3 linked regions of the Homo sapiens genome follow. The protein of the gene in region 3 purifies or fractionates together with the protein of the main gene of each other region. This does not show direct contact. Each region holds a gene or a part of one and is shown on either strand. Other genes may lie near its edges. The genes, in order: MOXD1, TACC1 and ACACB.

Evidence for each region.
Region 1: the proteins of ACACB (region 3) and MOXD1 purify together in Homo sapiens (co-immunoprecipitation; one large-scale study listed by IntAct). This does not show direct contact.
Region 2: the proteins of ACACB (region 3) and TACC1 purify together in Homo sapiens (affinity purification with mass spectrometry; one large-scale study listed by BioGRID and IntAct). This does not show direct contact.

Annotation. Positions count from the first base shown.
Region 1 is NC_000006.12:132,295,519-132,298,136, forward strand, and holds the end of MOXD1 (DBH-like monooxygenase protein 1 precursor), read right to left. Parts: intron 2,438-2,618; coding exon 2,269-2,437; intron 1,800-2,268; coding exon 1,635-1,799; 3' UTR 537-1,634; downstream 1-536.
Region 2 is NC_000008.11:38,821,627-38,825,283, forward strand, and holds part of TACC1 (transforming acidic coiled-coil-containing protein 1), read left to right. Parts: intron 1-2,363; coding exon of another isoform or gene 2,364-2,399; intron 2,400-3,657. UniProt on the Homo sapiens protein: Involved in transcription regulation induced by nuclear receptors, including in T3 thyroid hormone and all-trans retinoic acid pathways. Might promote the nuclear localization of the receptors.
Region 3 is NC_000012.12:109,259,518-109,263,174, forward strand, and holds part of ACACB (acetyl-CoA carboxylase 2), read left to right. Parts: intron 1-547; coding exon of another isoform or gene 548-632; intron 633-962; coding exon 963-1,140; intron 1,141-2,839; coding exon 2,840-2,952; intron 2,953-3,657. UniProt on the Homo sapiens protein: Mitochondrial enzyme that catalyzes the carboxylation of acetyl-CoA to malonyl-CoA and plays a central role in fatty acid metabolism.

The sequences.
Region 1 (2,618 bases), on a different chromosome or scaffold from region 3:
ATAAATTAAGCTTCCAAAGCTGTTTACCCTCGTCTAGCTGGTATGTTCACCTTCCTTACCAAGAACAAATATAATATTACAGAATATTTGTTCTTGGTAAGAACAAATATAATATTACAGAATCTCAGGAGGAAATCATTTGACTTTGATACCTCAAATTCAGAAATTCTGAAGTAAAAATCAACATAAAATTTCAAATAGGGAGCATTTGGAATTATATTTCTCATATAAATATTTGAATGGAAAATCATAGAATGTGAAATAGCACTTATAAAATAAAAAGAAAGTAAACTCAAAAATATGCCTCAAAAATATTAAAAACATTTCATCAAATGTACAAGTTCTAAGAATCAAGAAGGAAATACTCTGAAACATATTTATTTAAAAGGCAATACGTTTTGTGTTGAAGACATTATGGGGCAAAAAGGGCTTCAAAATGGAATGGAAAATGCAACATTCTGAATTGACTTTTACTGTTAATACTAGTACTGAATCACTTACTTTTCTTAAACAATGTATAAAATACCACACAAAAGTGTAATTTCATTTAGTTTATTAATATGATCCAAACAGATTTAGCTTAAGAGATGAGGACAGGACATAAAACAAGATTTGGCTGAGCTATATAAAGAAAACCAAAAGAGTGACAAGATTTTCAATTGGTGACAATTTAAAGTCATTTATTAACTAATATAAAAATAAATCTACAATAGAACCATGACTTAAACTGAGCCAGTATGTGGTACATGTGTCACCCAAAGTCAGCAAGGAACCATTCAGAACTTACACCCTCCTGGACTGGCTCACACGGCCTGTCTTTGATCTGGAACCTCATATAAGTCACCTCACAGCACTGGGTTTGCAGCCAGCTACATTTTTTCTCCTCAGCCTATGATCAGTTATTAATACATACCATTTCTATGTTTCCCATAGCCTCTTTCTTTTCAGATAGTGACAGAGCTCTAGAAAAAACTCATCTGGCCAGTACTAAACAGGGAAGGTGAAAAAAAGTACTTTAAGATGGGTGTGGGGTCATTTGGGGTACCAACAGACTCAGATAAACAAGGGAACCAGAGTGGGCATCAACAAAAAGCATTGAGGTAAGGGGCCCAGTGGTAATTCACAGAAAAGACCAGAACTGGACAATATTAAAGTCAGGAAGAATGGCTGTTACACTTGAAAAGTCACACTAGAAGAACAACAAAGAAGAAGAAAACTGGAATGAACAGTAGTCCCTTTTATATTTTTTAAAAGGAAGGAATTTTTTAAAGAAATATAAAAGTCAAGTCAAAAAGTGAAATAGCAACAATGAGTATTTAAATAAAACAGAATGTAGTAGGAAAGAAAGAATTCTTTTATTCCCACATGACAGCCCAATTTTTTAAAATGGTTATCTTAAGTCAGGCCAGTTTTATTTTATTGACCATGTATATATAACATCAGATATTTCTAAGAAAGAGAAGAGAACCTGATTGATGTCTCTCATGTAACATGGAAAGGAAAAAGGAGGGAGGGAAAATGGGGAAGAAAAGTCTCCACACTCTTCATGCCCAAAGTGGACACAGTCTTTAACCTGTACTTCAAATGACAGGTTCAGATCATAGAAAACATTGTCAAGTCCAACAGAATTTTGATCACAAGCTCTTGGTGCTCAGCGTGCAGCTGAGTAGCAGAAGGCAAACAAGCAAGTTGATGGAGAAATCTCTGTGCAGGGAAGAGGAAGAAGACGTGCCACACACCAAAGGTTCTGCTTTATAGGGTCTTTCTATATCTGGAGGTAATGCTGTCATTCCTTGAATCTGAAAATGGAAGCACAAACAATGCAAATGAACATCTGATTTAAGGCAGCACAGTGACCAGGCCGCTCAGCTGCCCACACTTCTGCAGGGGATAAAGGGGGCAGGAGTGGTTACCAAAGGAGTCACACACTGGGGGAGTCAGAAACCTAGGGTTAAGGAGGAAACAGAAAAGAGGGCCAGGCACTCCTTTGGAAAAGAATACAAAGCAGGCTCTATTGCTTTTTGCAGCACTCATTCCGGCCTGTTCCTGCTCTATCCCAACCTTAGTTTTAGAACTAATTTTTCTCTTGAAAGGGGGTAGAATGAGGAGTTTTCAGTCAATCCAAGTAATCATTGAACAAAAATTATCAGACATTAGAAGGCAACTGGACCCCTGGATTTATGGATATTTGTCTTCTCCTTAGGTTTTCCTGTAATAGATTCAGATAAAATGTGTCATCTGGGTTGTCAGAGGTTAAAAAGAGCTTACCGACCACTCAGCATTGTCTGTCTTGGAACATCTCACATTCACTGGCAGGCTGAGGACCAGCTTGTTGAAGGAGAGACCTTCCTTTTTAGTCCATTTAAACTTATTCATAGCATCCATGAAAGAAAGGTTTTTATATTGCTTGGGACTTTTGATAATGAAAGGCCAGGTCCTGAATTTAAAAGACACAGTTAGTCATATTCAGAACAAATGCATTACATGTTTCCTTTACTTTTCAGCATCCTAAAATAGATCTCACACTTATTCATTTTCATACACATAGATAACCTAATGCAAAATGTTGATGAGCTCATCAGTGATTACTAGAAGAAATACCAAATAAAAGATTTTTA
Region 2 (3,657 bases), on a different chromosome or scaffold from region 3:
TCTGACTTTTGCAAGGTCCTTGGTGTTTTCAGTGTAATTACCTAAGGTCCTATTCCATATCAAGTTTCAGTTTAACTTTGCTACAGGATTACTTTATCACAAAACTTGAGTAGATGATAATACAATCATACATCACTTAGCCACAGGGTAAGCCACAGGGAAATGCATCCTTAGGTGATTTTGTTGTGTGAACATCGTCAAGTGAACTTACTCAAACCTAGGTGGTGAAACCTACTACACACCTAGGCTATATGGTACAGCCTGTTACTCCTAGGCTACAACCCTGTACAGCACATTATTGTACTGAATAGGTGCTAGGTGTGGTGGCTTACACCTGTAATCCCAACACTTTGGGAGGCCAAGGTGGGAGGATCCCTTGAGGCCAGGAGTTCAAGACCAGCCTGGGCAACATAGTGAGACACCCCCCCACACACACCGATTCCCTGTCTCTTAAAAAAATTTTTTTTAATTAGCTGGGAGTGGTGGTGCATGCCTGTAGACCCAGCTACTCAGGAGGTTGAGGCAGGAGGATTGCTTGAGCCCAGGAGGTTGAGGTTGCTGTGAGCCATGATTATGCCATTGTACTCCAGCCTGGCTGGCAGAGCAAGACCCTGTCTTTAAAAAAAAAAAAAAAAAAAAACTACTATAGGCAGTGTAACACAATGGTAAGTATTTGTGTATCTAAACATATCTAAGCATAGAAAAGGTACAGTAAAAATATAGTATAAAAGATAAAAAATAATACACCTGTATAGGGCCCTTACCATGAATGGAGCTTGCAGAACTGGAAGTTGCTCTGAGTGAGTCAGTGAGTGGTGAGTGAATGAGAAGGCCTTGGACATTACTGTACACTACTGTAGCTTCTATAAACACGGTACACTTCAGCTATGCTAAATTTATTTAAGTTTTTTTCCTTCAATAATAGATTAAGTTTAGCTTACTGTAACTTTTACTTTATCAACTTTTAAATTTTTTAAGAAGTTTTGACTCTTGTAATAAAACTTAGCTTAAAACACAAACACATGGTACAGCTATACAAAAATATTTTCTTTATATACCTATTCCATAAGTTTTCTTTGTGTAAAATTATTTATTTGTTTACTTTTTAAAATTTTTGTTAAAAACTAAGACACAGACACACACATTACCTAGGCCTACCCATTACCTAGGCCTACTCAGGATCGTCAGGACATCACTAGACAATAGTTTTTCAGTTCCATTATAACCCTACGGGACCACCATCGTATGCATGACTGAAATGTCATTACATGGCACCTGACTGTATATCCTTTTGTGGCCCTAAAAAGGGCCACATTTTACTAAAAAGTTTGAGTAAAATGTAGATATAAAGAAGGACCAATGAGATGCAGGATGAAATATGGGAGTATGAGAAGCACTGTGTTTGTACTTGTCACTGTAGATCAGTTGGGGAAATGCTTCTCAGCATTGCTATGACTTAAAGAAAAACTCCAGATATCATGGTGACTTACAGCAGAAAGGAAGACGCCCAGAGGTTTAAAGAGCAGAAGGATCAACTTCAGTACCAAGAAAGTAGAGAGATATAGGAACCAGTTCCTCAGCAGCCCCGGAATGGCTAAGGGGAGTGAAATGTCATTAGTAGCTCTCGATCTGTTCTTTGATTATATATAAGCAGTTAAATGGTTGTTGGAAAATATTATTGATTGGGTGCCCTCTTTTGTGGCTTTTAAGGTTGGTTACTCCTCTCTAGACAGCACTTAGGGTATGTACTGGGCACGTCACTGCCTAGGTACTTCCTCCCCTAAATGTGGGATGCTTCTGCATACTGAAGTTGATAAGGAGTCATTTGTGAGTCTTTGAGTTGCATGCAACCAATGCATTAAATAAGATGAAATCTGGGCCAAAGAAAGGGTAATTTATTCTACACTTTATATTCGGCAGCAAGAAGCACCGTCTCTCGAGTCCTGCCACCCTCACCCAGTAGCCTTTTTCCCCTATTCTGTTTTTGTTGAATGAACTTCTTGATCTAATACACTTAATAGGGCTTTTTTTAAGGCCTTATGCAATCAAAAATCTTGTCGTCTTGTTCTTTTTAGAAGAAAGGAGTGCTAGACCTCTTGGAAGTTTATTTTTCATCTGTAAATTTGAATTTGTGGCATTTCTGAGTGTTTCTACCAGTCTCCTTTGTAGTTGAGGTCTGTTCATCATTCACTCACTGGTGATAACATTCATGAATACGACATTTTTAATTTGTATCTCACCTCATAGAAAGAATTGTGCAGCTTTTACATCTGCCAGACTAGAGTTGAATATTCCAGTCTTTACATGATTTTTTTCTCCATCTGTCTGTCTCTTTCCTGTCTCTAATTTTGTTGGTGCATCAGGACTACTGAACAAGTGAAATTTCTCTGTTTTCTGTTGTAAGTACTCCTGCTGTTTCTTTAGTCCCTGGGACCGTTGGCAGTTTCCTCTCTCCCCTCCCCCAGCCATCTCTCCATAGCATGTTTGCTTCTAATTCTGAGTTTGATCTTCTGATGATTTTTTTGCATTTCATCAGTCACTTCATGAGTCAGCTTAGCCTTGCAGTTGTCCATACCTAAGGGAGTGGGGCTTGGCCTTTACACCTTAGGTGCTAGAGCTTGCACTCCCTGGCTTGGCAGGTGTCACGTGGCGCTTTGACAATACCAAAAGCTGGCTTGGCCCCAAGATCATCACAGCAGTGGTTTGAGGGACTGTTCTGCTATTTAATATTGGAAATCATTGGCTTTTTTGGTAGCATAAAGCTACTGGCTTGGAACAGTTAATAAATTTTACTGAGTCAGCTCAACTTGAGTTTGGTGGCAGAGGGTAGCACTCAGTAAGAAGATTAGGGAAAGAAGATCATGAACTAGTGATTATGCACATTCCGGTAACTTATGTGCTTGTCTTTGTATTTTTTCTCACAAAAGAAAAAAAGTTGCAAATAATTTTTTCTCTTTTTTTGGTCACAGTGGTGTTTTTCCTGGAAATTCTAAGTTTATTAGAACAGAATCTGAATTAGTCCTGTGATCACAAGTTGTGTGCTAATCTACAAATAACAGATGGTTCAAGCTTCCCCAGTTTCAGGCTTTGTGCAGCGTGTGACATTCATCTTCCATCTTACTACTTAATAGGAATGGTAACAGTTTACTCACATATTTTTACTTTTATACTTTTTATTGATGACAGTTCTTCTCTGTGAGCACACAAGTCTAACTGGAACTGTTTTATGAGACGTCTATGGCTTTTAGTGCAATAAAGAATTTTTAAAGAATTTGGTCCAGCGTGATGATTTTTCTAATGAATGTCAAAGCCAAGCGAGTGAGGCTCAGAGGAACTGAATGTCTCCAGCTGCTAAGGCTCTACTGTCTGCAAAGCTTTTGGTGGCGTGTAATTAAAAACCATAGACATCAGAGTGCTACTGTTTGACAACTCATAGAAGCAAGCTGAGGGGGTCTTTTCAGAGAATGAGCCCCGCTTGTAGGTCTTTGCTTACCCCGTCTCTCTGGAGAAAACTCAGAGGCATAAAAGGTGTCCCTGCCTCTCTCCTGCGGCGATGTATGATTTGTGTGGTGCTGTATGCTTTGGCTTCTATCCGCACACACTGCTGTCTGCTCCATTTCATACCTTGACAATTGTCAGTGTGATTGCAAACTGGCT
Region 3 (3,657 bases):
TTGAGGCTGTACTCCAGCCTGGGCAACGGAGTGAGACCCCCATCTCAAAAAAAAAAACAAAAAAACAAAAAAAAAACAATGAGGAACTGAGGGTTGGAGGCAAAGTGTCACTTTCTAGAGGTCACACCATGAGGTGCAGGTCAGGGAGGGGCAGCCCCAGGAGCTGCCGGGTGACCTGGGCAGGCACCTCCCCATTTGGCAAGGTGAGGAGGATGTTTGTCCACCCTTCCCTCTGCAGAAAGCTGCTCTGAGCCTCATGTGACCTTACAATTGTGTGAGGGCTTTTTAAGCCACCAAGCATGTTTTGGGAGAGAGTGGCTGTTGGATCACTGGGGTGTTGAGGACAGAGCTGGATGGGAGGCAGACAGACCTGCTGTGAGTCCTTGTTAACTGGGTGACATCACTGAGCCTCAGTTTCCCTCCTTTGTAAAAGGGGGTTAAGAACAGGACCAACCTCAGAGGGCCGAGGTAAGAGTCTGATGAGCTAATTGCTGACATGCAGTGTGATTGTCAGTGCTGTTATTATTGCATTCTTGTTTTCATGTAGGGTGCCTGGGGACCTGGAGAGATGTGTCTTGGTGGAAGATAAGGGCCATGTTGCCCATGCACATTGGGGAAGGATCAGTGTGACTGTTAGTGAGGGTTTTCTTTGCTGGAAATGGTGGGGCAGGGCAGGGACAGTCATGGGTGAGGGCATTTCAATTCCAGTTGGAAAGAATCCTAGAGATTGGTTTTTCCCTGTGCCTTCACAGATGAGGCCACTGAGGCCCACACTGGGTGAATGACCTGTTCGAGGTCACACAGCCACTTAGAGAGTGATCAGTACTCTCAAATCCCAGCCCAGTGCTCTCCAAGCCTCTCAGCTGGGCTCACTCTCCCAGGACCCCCAGGACAACTAGGGCAGTGGGTTTCATGTGTGGATGAGTGAGGGCCCTGAACTGGGAGGCTGCTTTGCTTTTCAGACATGTATGACCAGGTGCTGAAGTTTGGAGCCTACATCGTGGACGGCCTTAGACAATACAAACAGCCCATCCTGATCTATATCCCGCCCTATGCGGAGCTCCGGGGAGGCTCCTGGGTGGTCATAGATGCCACCATCAACCCGCTGTGCATAGAAATGTATGCAGACAAAGAGAGCAGGTGGGTGTGTTGCCCTTAGCCTGGCTTAGCCTTTTCTTGTTCTCCCAGCCTTGAGAGCCCATGACCTTGGGAGATCATGGAGGGATGCAGTGGCTGGAACCTGTAAGTGGTGGAGAAATGTTGTCTCTTCTTTCATGGTTTCCACTTCCCCTTCCCAAGGAAGTTTGCAATCAAAAAATAAAAAGGAAAGACCAAAAGCACTTGAACTTCCTGGCAGCCAGGATGAAAAGGGAAATATGATGAGCCATTTATCTCTCATTAGACTCTGAGCTATGAGTTCCTATAGGAAATGTTTTATTCAGTTTTATATCCCAGGGTCTAGCACAGTGCCTTACTCTCCTGGTAGGTGGTCAGAAAATACTGGCTAAACAAATGACTGAATGAATACTTGCATGAGAGGATACCGGTTCTTCGCGGGAGAGGTAACCTCCTTGGCACTTTCCTTAGGAGGAATTTATTCCAGAGATTCTTACAGAAAGGATGATGACAATAATGTTCACAGCACAGTGACTGATGACTTTGAAGTGAAAACTACATGCTACACAGGATGTCAAGGCCTCAAGAGTCATTCTACTCCAAATATAGGCACGGCATTCCTGTGTTCACTCCCTCATTCATTTGCTAATTCAATGAATATCCATTGATTACCTCACTGTATGCCAGCCATTCTGGTAGACATTATGATATGGTGGCAAATGGGCCAAGCTTGTCCTGCATTCAGGGCACTTAGACCCTTGTTAGGGACTGCTGAGGTCAGTCCTCCAGGAAGACTCAGGATACTGAGCAGCACTTGAATGGAGTCATTGCTAACTTTTCATGCTGGCCACCAGGAAGCTCAGAGCTACTGATAGCATTCTTCAGGGCTTCTAAGCTGTCAAAAGCAAAAGGGGGCAGGGGGAGAATAAGGGGTAAATAAAAATGTTGGAAATGAGGCCAGGCGTGGTGGCTCACGCCTGTAATCCCAGCATTTTGGGAGGCTAAGGGGGGCAGATCACTTGAGGCCAGGAGTTCAAGACCAGCCTGGCCAACACAGTGAAACCCCGTCTCTACTAAAAATACAAAAATTAGCTGGGCATGGTGGTACACGCCTGTAATCCAAGCTGCTCGGGGGGCTGAGGCAGGAGAATCACTTGAACCCGGGAGGCAGAGATTGTAGTGAACCGAGATAGTGCCACTGCACTCCAGCCTGGGTGACAGAGTGAGACCCTGTCTAAAAAAAAAACAAAAAAAAAAAAAAAGAAAGAAAAGAAAATGTATGTTGGAAATGGGAGGACAGCTCACACAAGACTACACTGGGCTCTCAAGGTGCTTTTGTGAGATTTAAAGCGATCAGAAACAGTGCCCCTCCTCTAGGAGGGCAGAAATTAGCAAAGTTAGAGAGGACTGTGGCTGGAGAGCAGGAGGGTTATGCTGCCATGGAAAAAGTCGTACACTCTTAGACCTGAAAGGGGCCCTCCAGAGTTCAGAAAGCATTATTTTAAACAGTTGGCTCAGTCTTTCCATCTGTGGGTAAAGATACAGAGGCCCAGAGAGGGAAAGTGACTTGTCTAAGGGCACACAGCATGTGTGGGGGTAAAAGAGCTGAGGACTGACACCCAGATCTTCTGGCTCTCTTCCCTCCAGCTCCCCCCACATCCATTAGCCCTTGCTTGCTGGGCAATGCCTCATATACCCCCATCCCTGCCTCTTCTCTTTTAAGGGGTGGTGTTCTGGAACCAGAGGGGACAGTGGAGATTAAGTTCCGAAAGAAAGATCTGATAAAGTCCATGAGAAGGATCGATCCAGCTTACAAGAAGCTCATGGAACAGCTAGGTAAGGGGGTCCCAAAGGCTTCACCTCTCAGAGGTCAAGAGAGGCCCAGCTGGCCCACTGCTGGGGGTTTCTAGGATGTTAAAAATAAAATGAAAAAATACCAAAATACAGCTATAATAACTGTGAGATTTTTAAAGATATTCACATTTGTCTGTTTGTTTTGTTTTGTTTTTTTGAGGTCTGGCTCTATTGCCTAGGCTGGAGTGCAGGGTGCAATCTCAGCTCACTGCAACCTCTGCCTCCCAGGCATAAGCCATCCTCCCATCTCAGCCTGAGTAGCTGGGACTACAAGTACGCAACACCATGCCTAGCTAATTTTTGTATTTTTGTAGATGTGGGGTTTCGCCATGTTGCCCAGGCTGTTCTCAAACTCCTGGGCTCAAGCAATCCACCTACCTCAGCCTCCCAAAATGCTGGGGTTACAGGCATGAGCTACCATGATTGGAGGACATTCACATTTCTAAATCAACCTTTTTAACATTATATATATATATATATATATATATATATATATTGCCATCGTGAATTTATTTCTCAGCATACACAAAAGATAGCAATTGAAGTATTTGGGGCTGATGGGGATTATCAGAATTTTGGTGGCAAAATGTTCCTTTAGAATTCCCAATCAGAGATAAGATATTTTACTAATTTTGTTTGAATGACAGCTTTGTTTTACTTGTCATCTTTAGATGTAATTATCTTTAT